2 separate regions of the Homo sapiens genome follow, and region 1 is linked to region 2. Evidence: fine-mapped expression QTL. A gene starts in region 2. The other region holds a variant in brackets. All regions are shown on one strand. Distances are between the middles of the regions.

Region 1 (10,357 bases), 35 kb after region 2:
GGCATGCACAGTTATCTCTTCATGCCTCCTCATGGGTCCCATGTGCAAATTTGGGAGGAGTTAGTATGAAACATGCAGTGAATATTCAGGCTGTGATGTCAGCATGTCTGTTCTCTGCAAAGTCTATTTCAACAGTCATATTGGCATTAATCCATTTTAGCTAGTTTTGTTATCTTATAAGCAGAAGGAGTTTTAGCACTGTTTCTTTTTTTATTTGTTATCTTGTAAACTAAACAATTTCTGTCAGTCACTGGTCTCTTCAGCTCTTTGGAGAATGATTTCTTTGTTTTGCCTCTTGCTTCTTTTGTATACATTTACTCCTGATATATTTATATTGAAACATATATCTTATTTCCTTATTTTAATTGTTGTCTAGTTCTCTCTTTACACCACAATGTAATGTATCCACTTCCCTGTTAAATGACATTTAATTTGTTTCTAAGTTTCCACTATTACAAACAACGTAACATATTTTAGATGTCTCCTCATGAACATGTTTGAGAGTTTCTTGGAGCTATAAAATTTAAATTAGATGGTTTGGTCATATGGTATGAATATGTTAAACTTAAATATATTGGCAAACTGCTTTCCAAAGTGGTTCTATTAGTCCCTTATCAGTCTTGAAACAAGACATGACATTATATTCATCATAAAATAGGCACTTGGCAACAAATTTAACAATGTTTAAATGGCCATCAAATGAATCATACCTCCAGTATTTACATCTTTGTGTATCCCCTCTAAATAAACTATATGGGTTAATTTGGGGCACTATCGGTAATGCATAAATTATCCTTGCAAACCATTACTATTAGGTGCTGAAAATAAATGTGTTTCTTAACAATAGTATCATCTTTTTCAGAAACTAAAAATTCGCACATACCATACATATACACTAACATAATTAAAGGAATGTTTCTTGTAGTAATTAGTACAGAGTACTAATTACACACGATCACACACACCATCTCACACACACAATCACTGCTCTTTGGAGTAGCACTTCTAAACTTATTCTGAGAGCTTATTTCAGAATTCAAGTCTGATGAATAAAATAATGCTTCACACATTATTAGGCATTTTCAATTGAGCCTAAAAGTAGTTATTAAATGTATTACTTGGATTGTATCCCCTTAAATTGTATTCTTTCCACTTTTTTTTTTTTTTTTTTTTTTTAGACAGAGTCTTGCTCAGTGGCCCAGGCTGCAGTGCAGTGGCACAATCTCAGCTCACTGCAAGCTCCGCCTCCCGGGTTCACTCCATTCTCCTGCCTCAGCCTCCCGAGTAGCTGGGACTACAGGCTCCTGCCACCACGCCTGGCTAATTTTTTTGTATTTTTAGTAGAGACGGGGTTTCGGCATGTTAGCCAGGGTGGTCTCCATCTCCTGACCTTCGTGATCCACCCACCTCGGCCTCCCAAAGTGCTGGGATTACACACGTGAGCTACCATGCCTGGCTGGCCTCCACCTATTTTAAAACTTCAGACTTTCAAACAAAACAAAAGCTAATATTGAATAACTAATATTTCTGAATGTAATTCAAATTAATGTGAGATCTTGGAGACTATTAAATATTGATACATTGTCTTAATGTCCAACTTGATCTCAGAAAATTATAAAAAAATAATTAATAATCTAAAATACATACTATAATAGGTGACTTTCCAAATTTCATGTGTAAAGTTTATTCAGATAATAGTATTGTCACAATTTTGTTTTTTTCAAATAATTGCACTGAAATATCTAAATCTGCATTAACTATATGGCAAAAAATTCTTATTTTGACAGCAGTATTAACTGGTATTATGAAATGTTTACTCAAATACAATATGTTAAATTCCCCCAGATTAGGAAACCCTTGTACACTGTTGGTGGGAATGTAAGCTGGTACAGCTATTGTGGAAACGATATGGAGGTTCCTCAAAAAACTAAACATAGCACCATCAGATGACCTAGCAATCCCTCTTCTGAACATACACCCAAAGGAAATAAAATCAGCATCTTGTAGAGATATCTGAGCTCTAATGTTTATTGCAGCATTATTCATAATAGTCAAGATATGGATACAACCTATGTGTGTCCATCAGTGGATGAATGAATAAAGAAACTGTTATATGTATATGTGTATATGTGTATGTGTGCATATATATGTGTGTGTATATATATACGTGTGTGCATACATATATATACACACACATCTATATGTACAGCTTTGTAAAAGAAGGGATACTGCCATTTGCAACAACATGGATGAACCTGGAGGACATATAGTAAGTGAAATAGACCAGACACAGATAGCACAGAAAAATAAATATGAAATGATCTCACTTATTTGTGGAATCTATAAATAGTCAAGTACATAGAAACTGAGAGTAGAATGGTAGTTACCAAAGGAGGGATGGTAGGGGGGAATTTAGGAGATACAGCTTGAAGCGTACGAAGTTATAGTTATGTATAAGAAAGTTATTATTATTATATATTATATAATAATATGTTATGTATAATAAGATCTAATGTACAACATGAGGCCACAGTTAATAATATTTCATTGCACACTGAACAGTAATTTGCTAAGAGAGTAGATTTTAGGTACTCGATCCTCACACACAAAAAGGTAACTATGTAAGGTGGTGGATATGTTAATTTGACTGTAAAAGTCATTTTGCTATATATTTATATCAAAACATCTTGTTGTATACCTCAAATACATACAATAAGAAATGAGTGAAGATAAAAAGTCTATAACTAGACAATGATAGTAGGCTGGTATACAGGTAATATTTCAGTGGAAACACTGTTTTAATACAAATGAGAAAAGGCATTAACTAAGAGACTATTAAATCAATTCTTCCCACCTATGCAAAATACGAGGGACAGAGAAATACATTAACATAAAATTGTCAATAGCTTCTAAATTCTTGGAACAGGAGCATTTCAAACTGGGCCTATATCTACAAGCCTTCAGAATTTAAAGCAGTAATTCACATCAGTACCCTCCTCAAATGGTTACAATTGGTTCAATTTTTACCAGAAAGAATTAATGAAAGAAAAGAGGAACAGGTTGAATCCTTTCAGATTATTTAATTTATTACCACTCAAATATTTTGCATACCAAGCTCTTTGGACATATGATAAATTGACAATAGATGGGACCAAGTACCTGCAAGAGACTTACAATCTACATGACAGTCTATAGAAACTGGCAATGGGGAAGCTTATAAAATGGGATAGAGATTTTTATCACACATTAACTACAAATATTCATTCGCCTGTTTGGTCAAATGTTCTAATATTTGAGTTATCTTTTATATTAAAATGTTGGTCCATACTACAGTTGTCCATGGCCTATAAGAACTTGATGAGAGATAAAGTCTCACAGGAAAATGCACATACTTACATAAACACAAGATTTTGTGTTCATTTCCAGGGCATTTCATAGGCACTGTGGGCTTTAAAGTGTCCATCCTAAGACGTTAGCAGTTGGGTTATCTGTATTATTTGCATCTTATTATATCCAAAGTAAACTCATTTGTTAAATTTATAAAATGTGACTGGCTTAATATAATGATATTTGGGGATAGTGTACTTGGGCCCAATTCAAATTCTGCTAAACCTAGTAATCAGAGGCTTATATCAACTTAAAGAAAAAAAGAGGTATAGGTATGATTTTAACACCTTCCTATTTCTGCACAGCTACACAGACAATAATAATAATTCACTGACAATCCTGGGCTATCACAAATAGGAGTTTACATGGGAAACAATAGCATATTTATATTCATAAGTTAAAGTAAATTATAACTTTTCAGAATGTTAGATTTCTAAAAAAAAAAAAAAAACCTCAAGTTAGCAGGCAATATTTTTTTAAAGATTTCAGGCAGTGAAATTCAACATATATCTTCTTGAAGTAATACAAAAGTGGCATAAATAAAAGACTGTGAAATAAAATGAGAAGAGATATAAATGCCTTTAGTATTATCTTCAGCTGAACTTAAATACTATAACCCAATTAACAAAAATATAACTGGAAGTAGCTACTCTGAAAGAATGTTCTTTTAATTTGAATATAATAGTTTCACAGATTTTAAGTTTGAATTTTAAAGATACGATATGTAACTGTTTCCCCAAAGCCATTATTTTGGTTTCTTAATTTTTTGATATGTGTATTTTTAAAATGAAAATTGCAAGGGAAAGTGGTTTAGAAAATACAAATTTAGGTTTTAGAAAGTATAGGAAAAGGCTTACAAATGTAAGGCGGTGGCTTACATCTGTCATACCAGCACTTTGGGAGACAGAGGCAGGAGGATCACTTGAGACCAGGAGTTTGAGGGTAGCCTGGTGACATCGCAGAGCCCCCACATCTCTACAAAAATATAAAAATATATTAACAGAGCATGGTGACACATACCTGTACTTCCAACTACTTAGAAGGCTGAGGTAGAAGGATTGCTTGAGCCCAAAAGGTAGAGGCTGCAGTCACTATGATGGTACCACTGCTCTCCAGCCTGGGCAACAGAGCTAAATTCTCTTTTTAAAAAGGTAGGAAAGTATTAAGATTAGAGAAATAATATAATATGTGGAGAATCTGTGGTGACTAATGCTTTCATGGCATATTTGGAGGATACACTAGTTCTTCCGCTATTTTTCCCAAACGAGAGAGCTTGATAGTCATCCACATTTATAAGATGGATCTGAGAACAAGCAATTCATTGCTTTGTTTAATTGTTCATTCAATAAATATTTATTGACATTCTATGTGCCATGCACTGTAACAGCAGATAAAATAAACACAGATGAGCAAAAATTACCTAGCCCAGGCCCTCAGAGAGACCACAGTCTATGAGAAAAGAATGATAGAGATGGGATTAGGATGAAGTTAACAAATTCCATGAAGAAAGCAGTACAGAATACAGAGCACGGAGCTCTAGCTACTGCCCACGATGAGCACTTTGGGCTTTCCCTTAGAAAGAAAACTTGAATCCAGACGTTTAAAACACACAAAAAAACCAAAACCCCTGTCTAATACAATGCGTTCCCTCTTCATACCCGTCCACTAGTCATCTCAATTTGAACAAATCATCAGAGTTCCGACTAGAACCTAATTGGTGTTTGGTTCCAAGGTATGGGAATTACTTAGCTCATTGATCCATCATATGAAAATTTCCACATGCATCATTACTAATTTGAAAGACGCTTTTCCCCCTTGGAGCCAATAATTAATGTTTCCAAAGATCTATTGGGAATGCTTATCTTTGCTCAGTAAAACAGTAAAGATATGGAGCTTAGTGTTCCCTTTCATGTCACAAGGGAACTAATATTTGTCCCCCTCCATTTTAATTTATGTATCCTTTCTCTCCATACCCCACCTTCTGCCTCTCTCTCTCTCTCTCTCTCTGTCTCTCTCTGTCTCTCTCTCTCTCTCTCTCACACACACACACACACACACATTTTCTCTTTCCCCCCCCACTCTCTCTCCAGCCGTCCTTTCCCCCTACCTAAAGCAGTCAACCTCTGGAAGTAAGTCAACTCCATTCTGAAAAAGAAGAGTGTCGCAAGAAGTGAAAGTGATTTTGACCAGAGGTCGCTTG[T/C]CTCCACCTCTCCCCTCCTCTCCAGAAAAGGATGGAGCAGCAAAGCGGAGGGTGTGCGCGTGTCTGGTGGAGGCGGGTAAAGAAATGGGGTGTCTTTAAAGCAATAGCTTAGCAAATACTGGGACTAGAGTGCGGCTCGAGTCCACTTCCCAATAGTTTGGCGAGAGTCCGCCGGGTGAGCTGCAACCCCTGTTACCAGGAAGAATCTTTCTGCTTTCATTGCTCTCCCTACCGCCCCCCATAACACCTGAATGGGAGGGTCTCAAAGGTGGTTTGAGCCCGGACTTGATCCCCTCTCCTCACCACCGCTACCACCCGACGCCCAGCAGTCCCCGTCACCCGCCCTTTCTCCACCTCCAACCTTGACTCTGGGTACAAACAGGTCCTCGCACAACCTGATGACAGAGGAGCTTCATTGGTTAGATCCAAATCCCAGCGGAAGGGAGGGGGCCAGGAGGTAGGAGGACGAACACTGCTGTGGGCGGGGAGCCCACTTGGGGTCGGGGGCTGCGAAGCCGGAGGAGGGGCGAGAGACCCCGTTCCTCATCCCCGGAGTTACAGTCGGAACAAACTTGCCGAGTCTTGCAGCGCAAGCGCGCGGATACGAACCCCAGAACCTTCAGCGCGCGGGCACGAAAGGGTGTGGAGCGGTATACATAGCTCTACATACACATTGAGCGCTGAGCGAGAAAGGAGGGGGCGAGGAAGGCAGGTTCCGCCTCCCCTGGCCCCGTGCACACACACGCCCACCGCGGCTCGGGCTGGCTGAGCGCGGGCGAGTGTGAGCGCGAGTGTGCGCACGCCGCGGGAGCCTCTCTGCCCTCTCCTCGCACCCTGCTCAGGGCATCTGAAGAGCCTGGAAACGTGAACAGGCTTGAAGTATGGCATGTTGCAAAGATGGTTTCTGCCAAGAAGGTACCCGCGATCGCTCTGTCCGCCGGGGTCAGTTTCGCCCTCCTGCGCTTCCTGTGCCTGGCGGTTTGGTGAGTTCTCTGGGGTGCGAGGAGGTGGGCAACGGAAAGTGGAGAAATGGCTAGCTCCGGGACCCCTTTGGCCACTCGCTCCTCCCTGGGTGGACTAGGTCTTCTTATCTCAGCTGTAAGAGCAGGGGCCGAAGCCAGGCTTTTCTGTGACCGCATAGATGCGGAGAGCACCAAGGGCGCAGGATCCAAGAGGCGTGTGGGCACTGGGGGTCTTGCGGCGGGGCGCGCTTTTCCTGACCATTTCTGTCTTCTGCATCCCAACCCCCAACCTCCTCTCCTTTAGCTTGGGGCAAGCGACTCTTTCCCTAGAAAACAAACCTGTTTGCACCTGTTCTCTGATGGATTCTTAAAATAATCTCCTCCGCCCCCGGTTTTTTTTTTTTCGCTTGCAGTTTAAACGAATCCCCAGGACAGAACCAAAAGGAGGAGAAATTGTGCACAGAAAATTTCACCCGCATCCTGGACAGTTTGCTCGATGGTTATGACAACAGGCTGCGTCCTGGATTTGGGGGTATGAACGATTTCAAACGCGCAAGTGTGTCCTGTCTGTCCCTCTCTTGGTCTTCCTGTCTGTCTGTCTGTGGGAATATCATTAGGTATGCCTCACGTGCAAAAATAAATCTCTCTCTCTTTCTATCTCTCCTCTCTTGGTGAGACCTATGACAAGAAGACCGCCTCCACCCGTACTTTCCCATCTCCCTGCCCCCTCAGAAGCTTTGCCTCTCCCCCACACTAATTACCTCCCGGGACCTGACTGCTGGGTGGGGGAGGTTGGAGAGGAAGAGTCAAAAATGGGAACTCTGGGCTCAGCTGCCTGGACGCTCTTCGCTGAGAATAGTTTCCCTGAACCTGGCCACTTCGCTCAGAGCAGGTTGCATTGGAGGCAGCTGAACCGAAGTCCCTCATCCTCCCACGTGTCCATGCCTATGCCAAAACCTTGGCCAATGTTCTACCTGGGACATAAATCTGGGGCATGAAGCTGCCTGCTCTGCTAGAGAACCCAGTCCTTTCCTTTTCTCTTCTACAGCAGGATGCTTTTCTTTTTTCCCTTTCTTTTTTGGTGATGTGTCATTTGCTTTCCTCCTAAGACTTTAAAGTTAGAGATGTTCCAGCTTGCTTTCTTCAACAAAATAAGTATAAAGGACTTAATAGAGGTACATCCATTAACAGCACTGTTGCTGTTTTTCATATTCATATTTCCTTTGCATATATAATGGAAATCTATGTGGCAAGCTTTGCGCTAGGTACTAGGTCCACAGAAATATTAAGATACAATTCTTAACCTCAAACAGCTTCTCAGTCCAGTTCAACGAGGACAAATGACTTGCTAGGGTCCCATTCATAGGTTTGGCCCAGGTCCTTTGATCTCAAAGTCCCTGTTTTTTACAGTACACTGCACTAATTACCCTTCAGCAACTGAGTTGAACAGGATAGAGATTCTGCCTTAAAGGAGCTTACATTCAAGTGGTAACAATAATAACAGCCAGTAATATTGTATTTATTTAATTAAATGTTCACATATACCAGGCATTTTGTAGGCATCACCACTCTGTTTAACCCTCACAACAAAGCTTTGAAAGCCATTACCATCCCCACTTTACAGATAAGGAAATTGAGTCCAAGTTCCAAGTTAGTAAGTAGGAGGAGAAGGATGTAAACCCAGAGCAGGCTGTGTATTTAAAAGACAAAGCCGTGCAGATGGGGATGGTATCAGATGCTGTGTGATGAGTATCATCTAATATTAGAAGCATGGAGCAACTTTATACCTCCTATTGAGGGTGTGTAGGAGATGACATGTTGGGAGAATGGAGAAAGTAAGAATGGGGAGCAGGACTGCCTGTGATGTGAAGTAGGAGTATGGCCTGGGGCTAGAAACTCTTTCTAGCCTTCACTTGAAATGTCAAGTTTAAAACCTTTATGGGCAGATAAAGTAGAGTTGGGTGTTTCTTTGGCATCTGGTCTCATTTAACAGATGGGGACACTGAGGTTTAGAAAGGGAAAGTGATGTATATAAGGGCACATAGTACATCAATGATAGGATGAGATCAGGTCTTCTGAATTCCAAACCATTATTTTCTTGGATTTTATGAGAAGGTTATGGGAAGTCATTGAGGGTATTGATTCAGCATTTGTATATTTCTTTTTTTTTCTTTGAGATGGAGTCTCGCTCTGTCACTCAGGCTGGAGTGCAATGGCGTGATCTCGGCTCACTGCAACCCCTGGCTCCCAGGTTCAAGTGATTCTCCTGCCTCAGCCCCCAGAGTAGCTGGGATTACAGGTGCAAGCCACCACACCTGGCTAATTTTTTTAAATATATTTTTTGGTAGAGATGGGGTTTCACCATGTTGGCCAGGCTGGTCTCGAACTCCTGACCTCAAGTGATCCACCCTTCTTGGCCTCCCAAAGTGCTGGGATTATAGGCGTGAGCCGCGCCGGGCCAGCATTTGTATATTGACTGATAAGGATAGATGAGAAGGATGAAACTTTCTCCTGCTTCTTTTCATGTTGCCTCTCCAGGGATAGGTTGCCTACACTGCATTTGCCTTCATGCAAATCTGAAAAGGGGTGAATCATTTGTCAATGCATGATCTTCCATTTTAGATCAAAAATAGTGTTGTGGAGAATCGTTCAGATGATGTGATACCATTTAAGGCAATATTATATCAATAAAAGAGGATTTATCTGCCCATAAATGTTTTAAACTTGACATTTCAAGTGAAGAAAAAAAATAAGAAAAGTATCCAGTCCTATGTAGTTTAAATATTCATCAGAAAATTGATATACCAAAACATAAATCAAAGTGAAAAGTTAGAACTGAAACTATATTGTTTGATTATAAATGTTGAAAGTTAAAATAAGATGTGCCCAGCTGGCTATAATGCAAGCTGTAATTCAAAAGGAAGAAGGGATCCATTGTATATGGATCCTTTTTACCATCTACTCTCTCCCATTGCATAATATTGACAATAACATAAGTGAAAACAATATATGTGAGCCATTACTGGGTTTTGGTTAATCGTAATTCTATTAAACGTCTCAAGGACATTATTAGTCATCTAATTTGTCACTGCCAAATGATCTGCATTACCCACCTGAAAACATTTTTATAGTTTTATGGGAAAGGGTCGAATTAACATTACTCCCAGCATTACCAATTGATTAACCATTTAAACATTTACTAAATAGCATAATATGGGTTTTGTTTGTTTGTTTGTTTGTTTCTTGGCTTTGCTGATAAATGTTTGTGGTAAATGTGATTCACTTTTTAGAAGTGGGTCATTCTCTGTAAATGTGTAGTATTCCAAATGTGACAGAGAAATAGTGATTCTCACCTGCAGAAAATGTGTTTTCTGTTTATATGAAGTTGTAAATGTGTACCACTGAAAACAATGAGAAACTTCATCATTAGCACAGACTCTTAGATACCACAAATCAGATGCCTTCTATAGTATTGGATACTCTGTGGAAAGTTTGGTATTTTAAAAATAAAATGAAAACAATCCAGATTTTGACTAGTAGGCTATAAATATGGATTTACTTCCTGGTTCCTATAATCCTGCTTCTGCTCTTCGTGGGGCATTTACTTTATATCTGTTTATACAACTTTGCTGTGTTCCATTTCAAACAAAGCTAAAAGCAAAGATTTGAATTGAAATTGGATGGTTTGTGATTGCTCAGTAGGCCAGGCAGGGGTTGAAATAGATTTGGAAACTAAATTACATATTTTTAACTCAGCAGCACAGCTTGCGATAGGGAAATAAAAGGAACTGAAATGGTTTCCTTTTTT
Region 2 (10,344 bases):
TAGTCTGTAAAGCAGACAATGTGTAAACCAATCAGGGATTATATTTTACTTGGGGAAGCAATGGTAAAGAACAAAAATGAATGGAACCTAGTTCTCAAATCTACTAATTTAATGCACAATTATGTCATTTTCCCAGCCATGGAATGGGTAATAATGGTAATAAATAAAAACATAAATATAAGCAATGTTTTGGAAATTGATTCAACTTGCATTTTCTTAAAAACTATTTTTATGATATTATTGTCCATTCTCTTTGTTATATTCTTGTCATTTAATGTAGATGAAAATTTTCTATTAAATTACTCAAGTTACTGCCTATCAGGGCACCGAAACATGCTTAATACAAAAAGCAATAAGCAATAAGTCTTATTTTCCATGGACTTCCTACCCTATTTATATTAGCTAAATATCACAACATATAATAAACAATTCTCTTTTGGGGGTGCGGGCTAACCATCTGAGTTGTGTTTATACAGAACCCTCAATTTTAAAAACATTACTCTTTATTTCCATTTTTCTTGGAGTTATTTCCAATCTATTTATTTCAATGTTTTGTCATAGATGACAGAAGATAAAATAAACTTTGGGTTCTGTTGATAGTGCTCATTAAAAGGAGAAACAAGAAAGAACAAGTAAATCAAGGTTTATTATTTTTCAACTTTGAGTGGTTTCTATTTTCTAATCATGTCTGTAACATTGTTGTGGAAAGGTAATGGGGATTGTAGTAGAACAGGTATTTTCAAAGGCTTATCAGCTGGGTGAATACTTTTGAAAAATCAAGTGCATACACACGTGTTGCTGTGAGTAAACAGACTGTATTATTTAATCATTAGGAAGAAATGTCCAGTGGTATTTCAATTAAAGTCAATCCTTGTTCTGAGCTTATGTATGAATTCAGTTGAACAACTAATTATACAGAACTTTTTGTTACGGTGGTTGTTGATTGCAGCAACTTCCCTATTTAATTGAGTTTTAAAAAAAACTGAAAAGGGGTATGTCAATATAGCCAACAGAATTATATATTTTTTAAAATTCTGAAAAGCATGACACTCTACACGGCAAGGTAGAACAAAGGCTGCATTTGCTTTTTGAGCTTTTTAAATCTTCTATTTTATCAATTATCTGTGGATGCTTACAAGATACCAAAGGAAATGATTGAAAAGGAAAAATATTAACATTATTAATCTACATGATACAACTTGTTAAACTAATTCATTGTCTAATTTGTCCAGTTGCATTCGTGTAGATTAGGCACATATTATTACATTCCTCAGAGTGTTTCTAAATAATATGTTTTGGGTTACTTTGTGGTGTTAACATGTATGTAAACAGAATATAATAAGTCAGTTTGCCAAATGAGAAATATTCATTGTGTATTACGTTTTTAAAATTGAGTTTCTTTTTCCAGCACGACAATCAGAGACATTTACAAATAGTATTTTAAATACGTTATTTGAAGCAGGAGCCGCTACAACTACAAAATACAGAAATTAAATAGTCACACTTTTTATTCTATTCCTATTCAATAAGCTATAGACATATTTATTTCGACCCTAACATAACCTAAAAAGGAAAAGAAAAGAATTCTTAAACCATAGTATATTAAAATAAAACGACACAGTAGGAATGAAATGAAAGACAATTCAATAGCCTTTATAGCCATAGAGTGATACAATCTCAAATGGTTTTACTCTTTAAATTATTCAGGATTTATAAATTTCTGCCGCCATAACATTTTTTCACAAGTGGAATAAAAATGGCATTTTGCTCACGTAGATCTAGCTGTTCCCTGGGTGGTTGATTCTAGAAAAGCAACAGGCTTTTCCGTCTTACGAGAAGCAACAGTTAGAAACTCTAAGTAGAAAACTCCTACACACAGTGGACGGAACCAGCCAACAGAGAAAGTGGCAGCTATTTCAGTTCATTTTGCAATAGCTTCCAAAAAGAGAGGGAAGAAATATATAAAAGAATGTTGACCCCTTTGAAATGAAAGGACTGTGCTGTGTTACTGTCGCCCCCTCTCCCTTCCAACGTCCCTTAAATTATCAGGATTTTTAGGCATGCTTAGGTTTCTAGAGTAAGGTGAAGCAATATGACTTGATTTATTCTGTTTCAACTTAAATTTGCAAGATGCAGTAAGACAAATTCATAACCTCCCGCAAGAGAACAATACAAGCCTACCCAGGCTCGGGCACTTTTCCTACTAGCAAACATGGACTGTTGTCTTAGCCTGTTGCTCCTGCCACCAGGTGTGCCTGAACCTGGAGAGAGAGGACACTTTGAAACCCAGACTGTGCTCTCGGTGGCAGGGCCTTGGTGCATCCGGGCTCGCGGACTGCGAGGGCCATGGGGATTGCCAGCACCGCGCCTGGGGAGGTGATGGCTGCCGACCACCGGTCCGGGGACCCTAGTGCAGGCCGCCCGGCTGCCAGCAGATGGTGCCCTCCTCATCCAAACACGCAGGGAAACCCAGCTAAAGTAACGCTCAGACTCCGCCCCAGCAGATCCACGGCGCAACAGTCACTCGTCCTTCCCAAAATAGTGCCGAGCACGTTTCCCCTGGAACACCGCAGTAGCCCGTGTGTGTCGAAATTACAAACCAGGGGCGACCGGGTGTGTGTGCCGGAGCGGGGAGCGGGTGCGGAGTGGGACCTCAGGGGCCAGGGGCGAGGTGACCGCCAATGAAACGCAGAGGGCAAAGGGACCTGTCCATTTCCCATCTGCGTAAGCCGAACCGCCGGGCCCCTCGGGAGGCCACTCACCATATTCACTTCGGAGACCATGTCTATGCTGGCGACATCGATCCGCATCCCAACGTCGACGGGGGGCCCTGCCGGGGAGGTGGGCCACATTAGGAACAGATTCTCTCAGTGACAGCAGGCTGGGGAGGGTCTGGGGGCTTCCCAGCCCTTACTCCATTCTTAACGGGCTCCCTCCCTGCTCCCCCCACCACCCCTTTCAGGGGACTGCCTGGGAAAACAGGTGTGGGCACACGCGTGATGCAGTGACTATGCAGAGGGTGTGTCGGCCCGGGAGAAGGTCGCCTCCGCCTGAGGATTCATCCACCTGAGACTGGGGACCCGGGGTGTGTGTGTGTGTGTGTGTGTGTGTGTGTGTGCCCAGGGTATAGTGCACGCTTACGAAAATGACATGCCTTTTCTTTTTTTTTTTTTGACATTTATCTTTGACAGAAAAGGAGAACTAAGGATGGGTTACAGGTTGAAAAAAGATGAAGCGTTACCTCCGAAGTCCGGCCGCAAGCGAATGTCATATCCTTTGAGCAATCTGTCCACTGTCTCTTTCACGTATGACATGTTGCTGGGTTCATTGGTGCTAAGGGGAAGAAGTAGGGACCGTATTCAAAATGAGCACAAACTGTGAGCACATATAAAAAGATACAGGCACACCTACCCCCAAACAACAAGATACATGATCCAGCAGACACGTAAAAAGAAACATACCAAGAAAAAAAGAGAGAGAGAGAGAGAGAGCGAGATTCAACAACAGCAGCTCACCTGTGTGCACAACAGACCATGGTAATCATCACAGGGAAAGAGAGAAGCCCCAGACTCTCTCGATTTTGTACTGTCCACATTACTAACTCTGATTAAAAGAATTGTCTTTTCTGCGAAGATTCAAGGAATGCAACTTAGTCGGCTGCTGGGCAGTAATTCCCGAATGGACCTGCGCATGCGCAGAGCGCGCTCACTACCAAAAGACACCTTGTGCCTTGCAAACAATATTCCTAGTGGAACAGGCAACAGATTTCAATCCCTCTAAAGTTCCTATTTGGGGTGCTCCATGTCCTCCGGGTAGTCAGAGACAAGCTGCTGTTTCCACGCAGGGGATCCTACGAGCATGTGTAAACGGAGTTTCCTTCATGCATTGGAGGTTGCTATGTTGATTTCATTTCTGCCCTCAACCTGATTTTGTTTTTTTTACTGGGCGCTCAGTGATCTGGCTAAGGCTGCCTGTGATTGGCATCTTTCGTTGACAGTCAGGGAGGTCCTAGAACGGGGACTCTGGAGGAGGGTCTGTTGTTCTCTGGTTGCCTGTGGCGGGCACCGGGAGGATGTGATCAGCGGGGGTTGTGGGTGGGGGTGACTGGGAGCAGGGAAGAGTGGAGAGAGAGGGAACGGGAGAGTTACTAAAGGTACAGAGGAAACTCAGGACGTATTTGAGAACTCCAAAAATTAGGTGCCCTTGGGAGGCATCCTAGGACATCTGGCTTGGTGTAGACTTCTGTAGGAGGCAGAGTAGGAGGGGCAAGCCAACTTTTCTTCCACCCCACTTTTCTTCCCTCCCCTTGTCGTTTTTCATCCAGGTTGGGAAATGAGGGAAACAAAGGATCCAGCAGCAGTTCTGGGCAGGCAATCTTTTTTTCTAGGGCCATCCACTGCAAGCCCCACTTATCCTCCAGGTTGTGATAAGAAAAATCTCCTTCTTAAATTGACAGCATTTAAGGTGGTATTTGTGACCCCTAGCAGAACTCTGAAACATCCAGACAGTTTAACCTCTGTTCGCCAGTAGGTTGGGATTCTGCAGGAGCAAGTATTGTTTGAATTAAATCAAATTCAGTAACTTCGATTCTACAAATGTCATTGAGCACATGTTAGGCAGAAGGCCCTGGACTAGGTGTTTGTTCTTTTGTTAAATAGTATATATTAAATTTTGTTGTGGGCATTCTGGGACTTATAACTGATTCAAAAAGGGTTCTTGTCCTAGAGAAATTCACATCTAATGGGAGAGGGACACACACAAGTGTAAGTAAAGCGAATTGTAATCCCTACTCCTATTATAGTCTGCTGCTTACTTTTATGAGGGAAAGAGGAGACAGCTTAAAAATTAGCTTCTAACTAGGATGGAAGTGTCTCAAGGTCAAGAAACTTATGCATATTCTTAGTATTTCCCTACACAGGAGTTACCAAACAAAAAAACGTAATAGAAAAATTTATTCCATTACAATAATAACAAAAAATTCTAATGTACCTAGGAATAACTGGGGGAAAAATATGCACAAGAAGTTTAGAGTGAAGGTACATAACATTATTTAAATACACAAAATATGACCTAGATAAATGGAAAATGTACCATATGGGTAATTGGGAAGACTCAACATTGTAAGGATGTCAATTCTATCCAATGTAAGAAATATAACCAATTTGAATCAAAATTCCTACATTCTAAATGGAAATGAATAAACTAATTCCAAAATTCAAATAGAAGAATGAGGGGGTAAATAAAAGCCAAGAAAACCTGGAAGAAGAAGAAGAAAAAAAGAGAAGGAATATGGGGGCATTTGCCTTTGAGATATCAAGACATTATTGTGCTATATAGAAACTGAATCAGTTTGTCTTTGGCATGGAATTCATGTAGGGATAAAAAGCAAAATAGTACGAGCAAATAGAGAGCACAGAAATACTCCTCTATTTTAAGAGAAGTAGGAAAAGATGAGCTACTCAATAAATGTTGCAAGACAATTTATTATCCATAAGGGAAAAAAGTAGATCTTTACATCATTACATACATGAAAATATATTACAGGTAGATACGTAACTTTAATACAAAAAACAAAACTTTCAAAACTTTAAACTATATAGGAGAATATCTTTATGACTGTGATAAAAGGAAAGATCTAAAGATGAACAAAGTTATAAATGATAAAAAAGATTATTGCGATAACTATGTTAAAATGTAACCTTCTTTAAATCCAAAGCTTCTTCTGAAAAGTCAAGTTATACATAGAAAGAACATGTTTTCAGCAAATTTAACCATCAGAAGGTTTGTATAAAGAAATTACCAGAAAAAAAAACTTCCAGAAGTAAATAAGAAAAGATCAAAAGCCACTCTAAATAAGGAATTGCAAATTAAAGGAATTGTACACTATTTTAAACTCATGAGATATGCAAAACTTAAGAATATTAAAAATTGGCTTTTAAAACTCCATATATTTTCAGTAGACATATAAATTGATCTAAACACTTTGTACCACTCTTTGGACATACTAGTAAAGTCAAAGATGCCCATGCTCTTTGGCCCAGAATTGCTACCACTCAGAATATACCCTAGTGATAAACTCATGCAGTCTAAGAATATTTATGGCAGTGTTGTTTTTAGTAGTGCAAAACTGGCAACAATTTTTATTAATTGGAAATAAATAGGAATATAATCACACAATGTAATACAACAGTCAAAATAGTTGAATGTCTACATGCTTCTACACTGACAAATCCCAGAAGTAAAACACTGAGCAAAAACGAAACAAGAGCAAGGTGCAGAATGATATAATGAGCCATGATAACATAAATTTTAAAATATTTAAGTGTAAAACCCAAAAGATATATTATGTACATATACACCATATATATATATATGGTATATATACCATATATACACATATACACCATATATATGTATATATACCATATATACATATATATACACATATATACACATATACATATATATGGTGTATATGTATGTGTCGGGGTGTGTGTTTGTGTGTGTATGTATATATATACACATACACAGAATAGAGAACAAAAATAAGAAGGATACCACACTTTAAGGTTCAAATGAATCTACAATATTTTATCAAAAAAATTTCATTCCAATTAGCCACAACATGATATGTGGGTGTTCATCATTCTACTCTCCATATATTTCTAGATATTTGAAATATTTTACAAAAAGCTGATCAAAACTGATAACGAAGTGACCAATTAGGAGATACATTTGCAATTTATATTTTAAAATGTTTATGCCAATCAATGAGAGAAATAAATGTCTAATAAATAATGAGCAAACAATTGTAACAAGCATTTCACCAAAGAATCTCTAATATTTGATAGCAGAGTAGGGTGACTGTAGTCAGTAACTTAATTGTACATTTTAAAATAACATAAACAGTGTATTTGGATTGTTTGTAATTTCAAGGATAAGTGCTTAAGGGGATGGATACCTCATTCTTTATGATGTGCTTATTTCACGTAACATATCTATATCAAAACATCTCATGTACCCCATAAACATACACACCTAGTATGTACCTGCAAAACTTTTTAAAAAATAGAAAATATTTAAAAAAATAATTAAGTGACCAATAAATATATTGTAAAGTTTCAAGCTCAGTAGTAATCAAATGAATACAATTTTTAAAATAGATATGAAGTACCATTTTCACTTGTTGGTTTGCTAGTTTAAAATGGTTTAACCTTAAGTATCATGGAAGCTGTGGAAAAATACAATTTCATATACTTTGGGGACAGTATAAATTGCCACAATTTATTTTAAGGATGATTTGTAATACTAATAGTAATATAATATGTTATTGGATGCATGTATTGGTGGCATTTGCCTTCTGTTCAATTGATCAGTTTTTCTGATTTAACCTAATATGATATAATTTTATTATAATCACTCATTGTTAGAAAAGTATGAATTTTGATAAGGCAGCAACACCATTATTGCTTTTCAAGATATTTACATATCCTTTGTTATGTTTACATACTTTATTTTCTAGCTTAAGTATAGCATTAATTTAATACAATCTAAAAATCTCATGTTATTTTTATATTGCATTAAATATTCTAATTAACTTAAGAAGTCATTTTAACCTGTGTTAATAGGAATGGCACCACTTCACTTTTTGCATATCAATTTATCCTCTAGTGATATATTATTTTCTTTAAAAAAAAATTCTTGTGTTTCAGGTTATATTAATAGCCAGCTATTTAATATACTTTAGCTATATGAAAATGCATTTTTCACTTTGCATTTTTCAGCTCTTCTTATTTATATATTATAGCATGGACCTTTGAGGATAAAACTTGTATCATGTAATAAGCCAAGTATATTTTTACCTCTTTTTATTTTTACTTCCTGTTATGTAACAATTTTCATATTATATTTAAAAATTCATATTGCAATTTTTTCTGGGTTTATTCTTTTTGGAATGTCTTCTCAAATTATTATTTATGATATTTTTACTGTTTGATAAATTGTGGTGATAATAAGGATATTCATTGCTCCTTTCAGGTATAATTCTAGCCAAATAAATATGATATTTTGTTTCAAAATGTACGCTCTATCTTACTAATAAAGAGATGTTCTAAGCCATTACTTTTATTAAAATGTTACCATTGCATTAATAAGTATAGTTAACATTTTAATAGGCTTATTATTTATCAGCACTATTTTAAACACTTGACATATCTAGTGTTCATAATATCTTAAGAGGTAGGGATATATAATTAGTTCTGTTTTAAAGATGAAGACACTTAAACACAGAAAGTAACTTATCCAAGGTCAAACAAAAAATGAGAGACAAAATTCAAATTCAAATAGTCTAATGACAGTTTACATTCTTTTCTAGTACGTTATTAATTATGAAAAATGTTGCCAGCATAAAATATATTTTAACCTCTACTGAGATAATTAAATGCTTTTGCAACTTCTCCTGTATAATTAAATGCATTTAGGGTTTAACATATGTTATTAGTGATTTATATTTTAGAAGAAGCCCAAATTACGTAAAGAATTTGTATTTGAGTACAGAAGACCATGCTATCCAAGTAGAATCTTATGAAGGATACTCTGCAAATCCTGATTTGCAGTGTTGTGCCCTCTAGTTGGTCCCTGTAATGCTGTGGGTCAGGAAAAGTCACAGAGAATGAGGACTATTAAGCCTGTTACCGGTAATATATTGTTTGTAGAGCATCATTTAAAAAGTGTTGCCATTTATATCTGTGTTAATGTGTTTTTACATATTTTATAGTAAAATAGATTTTACTGTTTACTGTTGTTGTTTAGTAGAAACTATAATTTTTATCTTCTTTTATAAAATAAATATTTAGTGCCTGATATTAACTGGAGAACAAAACAAACAACCCGGTGATTATCTGGTGAACACTTTCCAGCTGAACATATAAACTTTGCGCTAATTCATTTATTCGTGAGTGTATTTAAAAACATTTTTAGAACTATGCAACAATAAGTGATACAAACTGTTGGGGCAAGGGCACCCAAATCACCAATATATAATAAAAAATGCTAGAAACGTGAAAAGGACTTTTTATTTATTTATTTATTTATTTTTACACTAAGGTCTCACTATGTTGCCTAAGCTGATCTCAAACTTCCTGAATTCAAGAGATCCTCCCACCTCGGCCTTCAGAGTAGCTGCCATTGCGGCCAGCAAAAACATTTTTTCTTGCCTTGGAATATCAGGGAAGACACCTCAATAGAGTTGAAACTTTCTGCTAGATCTTGAAATTCACCAAGTTGAGAATTTGGGAGGAGTTAGAACAGGTGGAAAGCACAAGTAAAGGCTTTGAGTTTTAAAGTTGATGGCATTACAAAAAAAACGGAAGTAGTAAAGGCAGAATTGAACAAAATTATGTTTGCAGTGGTGAGAGGAGAGGGGATAATGAGAAGAGGATAGGAATGGAGTAAGATGGTGAGAGGTATGTTTCCAATTTATAGCTAAGCAAGACAAGATTAGCAAAAGAAATCTGGGGATTTGTTTGGGAAAAAAACTTCTTTTACTCTGCCTCATGTTAAATACATATTCTTCATTAATTAACTGAGATAAGAACATTGCTAATCTGTCATTTTTATTTTGTTGTCATTAAAATTATTTTAAGATAGATTTAAAGAAAAATTTAGAAAAACCTGGACTGAGAATATGACATAGTGACAGTAATTAATTAAGAAATAATCTAATTACTTTCTGTGGAAAAAAAATTCAAGTTTATAAAACTATCCTCTCCCTGAAATGCAAATCGAAATCACAATACAATACCGCCTTACTCCTGCAAGAATGGCCATAATCAAAAAATAATAGATATTGGCATGGATGCAGAAAAGGGAACACTTCTACACTGCTGGTGGGAATGTAAACTAGTACAACCACTATGGAAAACAGTGTGGCGATTCCTAAAAGAACTAAAATAGAACTACCATTTGATCAAGTAATCCCACTACTGGGTATTTACCCAGAGGAAAATAAATCAGTATATGAAAAAGATACTTGCACACGCATGTTTATAGAAGCACAATTTGCAATTCCAAAAATGTGGAGCCAACCCAAATACGCATCAATCAATGAGTGGATAAAAAAATTGTGAGATACATATATATATGATATATATATGTGATATATGTGATATATATGCTATATATATGGATTTATGAAATTGAAATGTAATTGTAAATTTTAAAATGAAATTCCACAAATGGGTTGAATGGCACAGTAGAAGATTTTATTAGTTAGCTAGATAATAAAAACAAATAACATATATATATATATATATGATGGAATACTACCCAGCCATAAAAAGGAAT

Which allele goes with the higher level. Positions count from the first base shown, and alleles are read on the strand shown. Sizes are in standard deviations (SD) of each study's normalised expression.
In carriers of allele C in region 1, the expression in left ventricle of the gene that starts at base 3,680 in region 2 tends to be lower than with T alone (small effect, 0.38 SD a copy in GTEx).

What was found. PIP is the estimated chance that this variant, and not a neighbour inherited with it, causes the effect. A credible set is the group of variants that fine-mapping cannot tell apart.
Region 1: its variant is the best candidate, but not a certain one, in a credible set for the expression of GABRB1 in left ventricle (GTEx, PIP 0.58).

Annotation. Positions count from the first base shown.
Region 1 is chr4:46,989,552-46,999,908 of GRCh38, reverse strand. GABRA4 (gamma-aminobutyric acid type A receptor subunit alpha4) reads left to right here and starts at 6,328. Exons shown (of 9, transcript NM_000809.4): 1 at 6,328-6,570; 2 at 6,963-7,081. The coding sequence starts at 6,485. It also overlaps a transcript of GABRB1 not described here. RefSeq lists an enhancer at 5,872-5,941 and a silencer at 6,103-6,397. The variant T/C (reference allele first, on the strand shown) is at 5,588.
Region 2 is chr4:47,024,903-47,035,246 of GRCh38, reverse strand. It overlaps GABRB1 (gamma-aminobutyric acid type A receptor subunit beta1), which reads right to left and starts at 3,680. Exons shown (of 9, transcript NM_000812.4): 1 at 3,516-3,680; 2 at 3,242-3,333; 3 at 2,763-2,830. The coding sequence starts at 3,595.